Regions from separate parts of the Homo sapiens genome. Here region 1 is linked to region 2. Evidence: fine-mapped expression QTL. Tissue or cell type: lymphoblastoid cells after a statin. Region 2 holds a variant in brackets; the other region holds the start of a gene. All regions are shown on one strand. Distances are between the middles of the regions.

Evidence for each region. PIP is the estimated chance that this variant, and not a neighbour inherited with it, causes the effect.
Region 1: it holds the start of SH2B3, and the variant in region 2 is fine-mapped to the expression of SH2B3 in lymphoblastoid cells after a statin (CAP, PIP 0.95). The same link has a PIP of 0.9 or more in lymphoblastoid cells.

Annotation. Positions count from the first base shown.
Region 1 is chr12:111,402,973-111,407,972 of GRCh38, reverse strand. It overlaps SH2B3 (SH2B adaptor protein 3), which reads right to left and starts at 2,050. Exons shown (of 8, transcript NM_005475.3): 1 at 1,696-2,050. LINC02356 (long intergenic non-protein coding RNA 2356) reads right to left here. Exons shown (of 4, transcript NR_187522.1): 4 at 4,663-4,835. RefSeq lists silencers at 1,712-2,291, 2,412-2,571 and an enhancer at 4,594-4,843.
Region 2 is chr12:111,583,478-111,588,736 of GRCh38, reverse strand. The region is part of intron 1 of ATXN2 (ataxin 2); the gene reads left to right. Among named protein-coding and RNA genes, the nearest start is that of ATXN2, 13 kb to the left of the region's middle. The variant AC/C (reference allele first, on the strand shown) is at 2,348.

The DNA.
Region 1 (5,000 bases), 180 kb after region 2:
GGCTCATTAAATCTCCACTGCAAACCTGTTACTCCCCCATTTTACACAGAGGGAAACTGAGGGCAGAGTCACTTGCCCACGCCTTCAGCTGAACGAAGGCAATAGGAGTAGCAAAGCACAGTCTCCAGGACCCTCCTCACTATCCTCCTCCACTTCCTGCTGAGCCCCTGCAGACCCTGAGCCCCCAGCTGCTGATGCTCTGAGCCAGCCCCTTCCCAGCTGGCCGCTCTGTGGCCCACAGGGACTCACAAAAGTTCTAGGAATGCTCACCCTTTGGCTCAGAAGGATTTTCCCTCCCAGAGGGGGTAGTGGGAAAAGGCTCAGGAAAAGTGCACTAAAAACCCTTCCAACTTCCCCCAGTAGGCCCTGGCTCTCATCCTCCGAGCCCAGCCTGCCCAGGTGGCCTCTGACGGCTCTCCCTCCACGAGGGCAGGTCCCGAGGAGCCTCCAGAGCTGTTTCCACTCAGGCAGCCAGGTCAGTGATGGGAAACCCAGACACAACCTGCGCCTGCATCCCTGGAGACCCACAGGCCCACTGCCCTGGCAGGGGCCCTGAGGCCTGGCTGCTAGCCGGTGTTAGGGAACTGTCATCTCCCCGGCGAGGGGCTGCGGGTCAGATCTCGGTCCCTCCTGCCACCAAAGCTGGCCTTGCCGACATTGCCTTGCCGGGGCCTCTGCTCTGAACCCCCCACCAGATTTCACTTCCTCCCACTCAGCCCAGCCTGGCCGTGCCCCTCCCTGGAGGCCCCCAGCTGCAGGCAGTGACCTCCTCACCTACATCATTGTGGCTGGGAATGGGGAAGAGAAACAGGAGAATGAGGAAACTAAAGAAAAAAAGAAGCGGGACAGGCAGGCAGACCCTCCTCTCCAGTTCCTCAAATGCAGTCCCCCTCCCTCAAAACAAAGCTCCCCTGGCCGGAGGGAGGGAAGGGAGGGAAGGGGATTTCTGCACCAGGCATCAGAGACCTCTGAAATACCATCCCTACCGTGCGGATCTAGAAGACCAACACCCACTCCAGACGTTTTTTGGTCGGGGGATTCCCAGGGAACCCCAGGCAAGAGGTGTGAGAGGATCAATACCAGAAACCTGTCTCTGGGACGCCTAGCCCTGGTGAACCGCCCAATTCAGCAGCATGCGGGGGCCTGGCCCGGTCGACCTCGGCAGTGCAGGAACTGGGGAGAGGGGCTTCCTGAATCAGGGCGCTACCCTCTTAGCCACATGGCCCGGAATGGGGAGTGGGGAGGGGCCGGCGCATCCTCCCCCGCTGCCCCCACACCCAAGGGCTCATCTGTGCTCACAGCCTCAGTTTGACTACTTTCACTTTCAGGGTAGCAATGGGTGACCCCTGACCGCTCCTCCCCAGGCACAAGTTGAGGGGAGGGCCGCCCCCAACCGGCGAGGCTACCGTAGGGTGGGCTGGGGGCGTCAGCGATGCCCTCTCCCCCATCCCACGGCCTCAGTTACCCCAACGCTCTCCCTAACACGTGTGTGGGTGGGGGTAGTGGCTGAGTGGGGGGTCGTAGGCGCTGGGAGCCGTCACCCCGGAACGCCTCCATCCGAGTTGGCTGCAGGGCAGTATTTTGGGCTGGGGGTGACGCGCAGAGCCCGGGCAGAACTGGACACGGGGCCTCCTCTTTCCCCACAAAAGCCCTCCCGGCCCCGGAGGAGGGGAGCGCGGGCAAACGCGGGCTCACCTGAGAGACAGGAGCTCTGGGCCCGGCCGGCCCATGGCGTCGCGCGCCCCCGGGCCCTCGAAATCCCGAGGGGGCGGGCGGGCCCCCGCCCTGGGCGCGTCCTCTCCCGCCCGCCGGCTCCTCGCTCGCGGCTCGCTCGAGCGGGGCTCAGGCAGGAAACCCGGGCTCGGAAAATGGCCAGCGCCTCATCATTTCCGCCGCCAGCGCTTGACAGTTGCGGGAGGATGCGCCCCCGGGCCGCCGCCGCCGGGGAAACTTTGCAGCGGCCGCCGTCGCCACCGCGGGCCGCGACAGTCCGGGCGGGCAGCCGGGCGGAGGCGGTGGCCCGGGCCCATGCCGCCCCGCGCCGTTATGTAAAGAGGAACCGGCCGTGCGAGCGGAGCCCGGCGGGGGAGGCCGGCCGCGACAGGGGCGGGGCAGGGGCGGGGCCACCAGGAGCCACGCCTCAGGCCGCGCGCGAGTCGGAGATTCGGCTGGAGGGGCGGGCCATGAGGGCGGAGCCCGGACTGGCCCCGCCTACCAATCCCGCTAGTCCGCGGCTGCCAGGGTCGGAGGGCTCTCCTGGCGCGGGTCCGGAAAAAGGCGAGGCCTTGCGAAGCCACGCCCACCACGTGCCCACCCGATTTCGCGTCCCACAGTCTGAAGATAGAAGTGAGGATCGGAGGGGCGGGGCGACTTTAGCCCCACCCACTCAACGCCGGCAGGTCACCAGGTGCCTCAGCGCCTGGAGGCGGGGCCAGATGAAGGGGCGGGGCCTAGGGCGGGCAGGGTCGAGGGGCCTGGCCTCCAGGGGGCGCGCCCTTGCTGACTCCCTCCTGCAGGGCCTTATCAGTGCCCGCAGGGCTGGGCGGTGCAATAGCGACCACGGCTTTCATCATCGCCCCAGGGAGGGAGCCCAGCCCTGCCCGACCCTGACTATCTGCGATCATGCTGACCCGACCCGCCACGGCCCCAGGCCCCCGATTTGGGTTCTGGCCCCAGCCCTCAGCTTTGCCTTTGCTACAGCCGGTGCCCGTATAGCCCAGCCTCGCTCCGGCCGCCCGTCCTGTCCCCCAATTCTAGGAGGGGTGCATCTTTCTCCAGGAAGCCCTCTCCGACCGCTGGCTTCCGTGGCCTCTGCGCCCACCCCCCTGCCCGCCCCCGGGCTACTTACATTTTCTCCACGGCCTCATGGGGAGCTGAGACGGACAGTGGGGTTCCCCCTAGTCCGGAGTGGGACATGCTCTCAGCCAGCCTCTCCCCCAACATGTGGGAGGGCGGGGAGGGAGGAATGTACTCTTCTCCCCCTCCCCCAACAGGAAACAAGTCGCCCACGCCCCCAGCTTGGAGGGGCCACCTCGAGTCTTCCCAGGCAGCAAGTGTCTCCATTCCACTGCCTCCCCCTCTTCCTACCCGGGCAAATGACTTGACTTCTCCGTACCTCTCCACTTCCTTGCCTATGAAATGGAAATAATGTGTACCCACTCTCCTGGCAGTGAGAATTAAGTGAGTTAATGCATTAAAGCAGTTAGCTCGAGGCTTGGCTCCAGGAAGCTCTCTGTGTTAAACAAATCGGCCCCAGTCCTGACCTTAGAACTACAGGAAGGGGTTCCCCAGAAGGTGGGGATTTCCAGACTCCGAGTAGATGGGGGAAGGGAGCGGTCTGCTACAGGATTCCTGGTGTCCAATGACCTTGAAGAAAAAGGCCACAAAAATCTGCTTTCCGCACATTTCCAGGCACTGTTCTAGGCGCTGGGAACACAGCAGTGAACAACACAGATATCCCTGCCTGCGTGGAGCTGATATTCTAGTGGGGGGACATAAGGCACGAATAAGCAAGTGGGATCAGCTATGACAATGACAAAACAGTTACGGGATGGAGAGCTGGAAGGGGATGTCTTAGATCCAGGGCTCAGGAAGGACACCTCTGCGGAACTAACATGTGAGCTTAGAACCCTCCATGACAAGAAGGATCCAGGTGCTATAACGTCTGAGGGAAGAGCATTCCAGGCCAAAGGAACAGCATGTGCAAAGGTGCTGAGGTGGGAATACATGTGGTGCTTTGGAATAAAGTCATAAAGGCAGTGGTGACACCTATACTGGTAAGAGATGATGTTTCAAAGGTGGGCCCATCACATGGTGTCTTGAAGGTCTTGGTGGGGACTTTGGGAATTATTTTGAAGGCAGTAGGGTGCCATGGAGGGTTGTGAGGAGAAGGACCTGTGGAGTGTGGGATTCAAGCTGTTCACACGGCATCTGAGGATGTGGGAAGAGGGGTGGGGTGGGGGAATGTCAATGAAGTCTAAACGAGGCCGGGTGTAGTGGCTCACACCTGCAATCTCAGCACTTTGGGAGGCTGAGGCCAGCGGATCACCTGAGGTCAGGAGTTTGAGACCAGCCTGGTCAACAGGGTGAAACCCTGTCTCTACTAAAAATACAAAAATTAGCCAGGCATGGTTGCACGCACCTGTAGTCCCAGCTACTGGGGAGGCAGAGGCAGAAGAATCGCTTGAACCTGGGAGGTGGACACTGCAGTGAGCCAAGATTGCATCACTGCACTCGAGCCTGGGAGACAGAGGTAGGCTCTGTCTCTAAAAAAAAAAAAAAAAAAAGTCTGAATGGATCATCCCATATTATTTGATCACTTTCTTATACCTGGGGACACTGCGGCCAAGAGAGAACAGTTACTTGTCTGTAGCCATGCAGCTGCCAGGCAGCACCCACAGAGCAGCCCGGTACCCAGCCAATGCCAAATGGCTGCTGAAATCTGCCAGCCACAAGCACTTTCCCTCTCACTGCCCAGACAGCAGCTCTGCTGACTTAAATTGGGACTTGTGGTTCTTCCCCTTTTTAATCACGGTTCAAACCTTCTCGCCTGCCAGATTTCTCGGAGGCCCAAACTGGTTTCCTTCCTCGCTTAGTCGCTTCTTGCCCACATCCCCGCCAGAGTCCAGTTTTTTGTTTTGGCGCTCGCTGAGACCCCAAGACTTCTCACTTTTTGTGTTTATTTTCCCTTGGAAAGGCAAAGGGATTCCAACAAATAACCTTCCCATCACCGTGCCCAGATTTGAGAGTGCCGCTGCCACGAACACAGCGAGGTCGTCGTCGCCACTGGGAGGCCGGCCAGCCACGGCTCTTCCCACTCGGCAGGTCACTGGGACCTAAGGAGAGAAAGGGTTATTCAAATTCCCATGACTGATCCGTAGCTCCCGGAAACAAGCCAGGCCGTCTTAGGGGAGCAGGTCCAACCGCCCTTCCTTCTTGCTGTGAAAAACACCAACACCTCCTGCTGGCCAAGTTCCAGAAAGCCGGAGACTCACAGGATT
Region 2 (5,259 bases):
TATAGGCATGAGCCACCGCGTCCGGCCTGGTTTGGTATTTTTTTTATGAGTCTGGGTTGTTTATGAAAACTTGTCACAGCTGTTAACCTTAACTTTTTTTTTTTCTTTTTTTTCCGAGACGGAGTCTCGCTCTGTCACCTAGGCTGGAGTGCAGTGGTGCGATCTCGGCTCATTGCAACCTCTGCCTCCCAGGTTAAAGCGATTTTTCTGCCTCAGCCTCCTGAGTAGCTGGGACTGCAGGCACGCACCATCTCGCCTGGCTAATTTTTGTATTTTAGTAGAGATGGGGTTTCACCATATTGGCCAGGCTGGTCTGGAACTTCTGGCCTCAAGTGATCCACCTGCCTTGGCCTCCCATGCCTGGCAACCTTAACTTTTTATTTGCTGGTAATTATTTGTGTTTGCATTCATGTGAAAATTTGAAATTCTCATTAACATTTAAAGATTCTTACATAGATTGCTTGTAATTTTAACCCTGAAGTTGTGTCAAGTGACTTTACAATGTCAATTTGTTTTATTTATTTATTTATTTATTTATTTATTTATTTTTGTGATAGGATCTGGCTCTGTTGCTAAGGCTGGAGTGCAGTGTTGCAAATACGGCTCACTGCAACCTCTGTCTCCCGGGTTCAAGCCATCCTCCCACCTCAGCCTCCCAAGTAGTTGGAACTACTGGTGCGCCCCACAGTGCCTGCCTAGTTTTTTTGTATTTTCAGTAGATGTGGAGTTTTGCCATGTTGATCTTGAACTCATGGCCTCGAGTGATCCACCCCACTTAGGCCTCCTAACATGCTGGTGTTACAGGTGTGAGCCACTGTGTCCAGCCCGAAAATGTCAGTTTCGTGCCATGATTAATAGCTAACTACATTTTGGGAATGTAATAAAATTTCATTCTATAATGAAGTCTTTGTAAAACTCATTAGTTGTGGTATGAGGCTTGTCGGCAATATAAGTGAACGTGGTTTATTTTTATTAACTGTATCAGAACTTTAGAATGTTGGTCTCCTGAAACCATTGCCTTGAGAGGCTTTATTGAACAGTGTTGCCAATGATCAGTTTTTTTTTAAATTTCCTTTTTTTTGAGACTGAGTCTTACCCTGTTGGCCAGGTTGGAGTATAGTGGTATGGTCATGGCTCACTGCAGCCTCAACATCCTGGGCTCAAGCAGTCCTCCTACCTCAGTCTCCCGAGTAGCTGGAACTACAGGTGTATGCCACCATGCCTGGCTTTTGTATATTTTGTAGAGACAGGGTTTAGCCATGTTGCCCAGGCTGGTCTCAAACTCTTAAATTCAAATGATCCACCCACCTAGTTTTCCCAAAGTGCTTTAATTACATGTGTGAGGCACCGTGGCTGGCCAGGTCAAATATTTTTCATTGACGTTTTTCATATTGCTTTTTAAAGTCATGTTAAAATATTCTTAATAATTTTTCTAAGTGGAATTAATCTTGATTATAATTTTAGTTTTTTATAAAGGGCGGGTTTTGAAACAAGTACTGCATTTTTCTTTTCGGGTTTATAAACATTTGCTGTGGACTTTGTGCAGTTAACTATTTTCATTCCTGAAACACATTTCGAAATCAGGAATTGAAGACTAAATGTCTTTTCACTGAAGCTTGAGCAGATTTTAGAAAGGGGAGTTCTTTTTTTTTTTTTTTTTTTTGGTAGAAATGGGGGTCTTGTTATGTTGCCCAGGCTGGCCTCCAACTTCTGGGCTTAAACTGTCCTCCTGCTTTAGCCTCTGGTCTGGAGAGTTCTTTATGGCCTCTTTGAGAACTTTTACTTTACACATGATTCTATCTAGCTTTCTTTTCTGATGTACATATTGGCAGCAAGTAGAAAAGCAATGTTTTCAGAGGCAGATATATTAACAGCAATGAGAAATAACAGTAGCGTGATAGAAAGTTGAAAGACTTAGCTGGGTGCGGTGGCTCACGCTTGTAATCCCAGCACTTTGGGAGGCCAAGGAGGGTGGATCACTTGAGGTCAGGAGTTCGAGACCAGTCTGGCCAACATGGTGAAACCCTGTCTCTACTGAAAAACAGAAAAAGGGCCGGGCGTGGTGGCTCACCCCTGTAATCCCAGCACTTTGGGAGGTTGAGGAGGGCGGATTACAAGGTCAAGAGATTGAGACCATTCTGGCCAACAGGGTGAAACCCCATCTCTACTAAAAATACAAAAAAATTAAATGGGCGTGGTGATGTGTGCCTGTAGTCCCAGCTACTCGGGAGGCTGAGGCAGGAGAATTGCTTGAACCCGGGAGGCAGAGGTTGCAGTGAGCCGAGATCGGGCCACTGCACTGACGACAGAGGGAGACTCCGTCTAAAAAAAAAAAAAAAAAAAAAAA[AC/C]CAGACTTGGGGCTGGGCGGGCGCCTGTAATCCCAGCTACTTGGGAGGCTGAGGCAGGAGAATCGCTTGAACCCGGGAGGTGAAGGTTGCAGTGAGCTCAGATTGTGCCACTGTGCCCCAGCCTGGGCCACAGAGCAGAGTGAGACTCTGTCTCAAAAAAAAAAAAAAAGTTTGGAAGACTGGTGGCTGGGCATGGTGGCTCACACCTGTAATCCCAACACTTTGGGAGGCTGAAGCAGGCAGATTACCTGAGCCCAGGAGTTCAAGTCCAGCCTGGGCAACACAGGGAAACCCCATCTCAACAAAAAATATTAATACAAAAAATTTAGCCAGTCATGGTCGTGCACTTCTGTAGTCTCAGCTACTTGGGAGGCTGAGGCAGGTGGTTCACTTAAGTCTGGATGTCGAGGTGAGCCATGATTGCACCACTGCACTCCAGCCTGGGCGTTAAAATGAGACCTTATCTCAAAAAAACAAAGCAAAGAGCCTGGGAACTACTAAAATGGGAACTACTAAAAAACAGACACAAGAGCTCAACAAGTATACCATTCTGGGAGGTTTTTTTTTTTTTTTTTTTTTTTTTTTTTGAGATGGAGTTTTGCTCTTGTCACCCAGGCTGGAGTGCAATGGCGCCATCTCTGCTCACTGTAGTTCCGCCTCCCAGGTTCAAGCAGTTCTCCTGCCTGACTCCTGAGTAGCTGGGAGTACAGATATTGGTCACACACCGGGTTAATTTTTGTATTTTTAGTAGAGACGGGGTTTCCCCATTTTGGCCAGGCTGGTCTCGAACTCCTGACCTCAGGTGATCCGCCTGCTTCAGCCTCCCAAAGTGCCGGGACCACAGGCGTGAGCCACCGCACCTGGCTTTTTTTTTTTGACATAGAATCTTGTTCTGTTGCCCAGGCTGGAGTGCAATGGTACAATCTTGGCCCACTGCAACCTCTGCCTCCCAGCTTCTAGCGATTTTCCTGCCTCTGACTCCTGAGTAGCTGGGATTACGGGTGCCCGCCACCACACCCGGATAATTTTTGTATTTTTAGTAGAGATGGGGTTTTGCCATATTGGCCAGGCCGGTCTTGAACTCCTGACCTCAGATGATCCACCTGCCTAGGCCTCCCAAAGTGCCGGGATTACAGGCGTGAGCCACCACTCCCGGCCTGGGAGTTTTGACTGTAAGTTTATAGCTGTATATCTTAGGCCCTAAGGGCATTACTGTTTTATAGCACAGTGTAGTTAGTTAATGTGCTCATAATGGTGACTCATAACACCAGGTTAAATGATTTTTTATATCTCCCAAAGAAGTATTTTTCAATCTGCAGATCATGACCCCTTAGTAGATTGTGAAACACATTAGTGGATTATGACAAGCATTTTTAGAAAAATGAAAAAGAATAAGAAGTGTTAGGATGCATTGCATTATTGAAATAATTGTTTTTGAGATGGAGTTTCGCTCTTAGTTGCCGAGGCTGGAGTGCAATGGCCCGATCTGCCTCCCGGGTTCAAGTGATTCTCCTACCTCAGCCTCCTGAGTAGCTGGGATTACAGACATGCTCCACCATGCCTGGCTAATTTTGTATTTAGTTTTAGTAGAGATGGGGTTTCTCCATGTTGGTCAGGCTGGTCTTGAACTCCTGACCTCAGGTGATCCACTTGCCTCGGCCTCCCAAAGTGCTGGGGATACAGGCATGAACCCCTGTGCCCGGCCTAATTTTTGTATTTTTAGTAGAGATGGGGTTTCACCATGTTGGCCAGGATAGTCTTGATCTCTTGACCTCGTAATCTGCCCACCTCGACTCCCAAAGTGCTGGGATTACAGGTGTGAGCCACTGCACCCAGCTGCCAAGAATTGTTTTAAGCTTTGGTTTGAGTTAATGTATATATACCGCATTGTAATTCAAAATGTAATTTTTGGCCAACTCTGGGCACATTGCCTATGGACTAGTCCTGCTCTGCCACGAGCAGCAACAGTTCAATGAATTTTTTTTTTTTTTTTTTTTTTTTTTTTTTTTTTGAGACAGGGTCTCTGTCACCAAGGCTAGAATGTAGTGGTGCAGTCTCGGCTCACTGCAACCTCTGTTTCCTGGGCTCAAGCGATCCTCCCACCTCAGCCTCCTGAGTAGCTGGGAGTACAGGAGCACGCTACCATGCCTGGCTAATTTTTGTATTTTTTGAAGAGATGAGGTTTTGCCATGTTGTTCAGGCTAGTCTTGAACTCTGGAGCTCAGATGATCCACCCACCTTGGTGTCCAGAAATGCTGGGATTACAGGGATGAGCCACCGTGCCTAGCCAAAAATTTTTTTTTAAGTAATTTTTTATTGATATAGTCAAAAAAGTTACTGCTTTAGAGCCAGAGAAACGCAGTAAAAGGATTGAGAAAGAGTTTTGAGGTTATATCTAAGCTAGGGTTGTCAGATTTGGCAAATAGAAATACAGGACACTCAGTTAAATTTGAATTTTTGATGAACATTGACCAGTTTTTTAGTATAATTGTGTATTAAATTGCATAGAAAAAAGTTATTTATCTAAAGTTGAAATTTAACTGAGCATCTTGTATTTTATCTGGCAACTCCAGTCTAAGCTGGAATCATGGTTCACTGTTTTTTTTTTTTTTTTTTTTTTTTGAGTCGGAGTCTTGCTGTGTTGCCCAGGCTGGAGTGCAATGGTGCGATCTTGGCTCACTGCAACCTCCACCTCCTGTGTTCAAGTGATTCTCCTGCCTCAGCCTCCTGAATAGTTGGGATTACAGGCACCCACCACCATGCCCAGCTAATTTTTATATTTTTAGTAGAGACGGGGTTTTCGCCATGTTGTTCAGGCTGGTCTTGAACTCCTGACCTCAGGTGGTCCGCCCACCTGGGCCTCCCAACGTGCTGGGATTACAGGCATGATCTACCGTGCCTGGCCATGGTT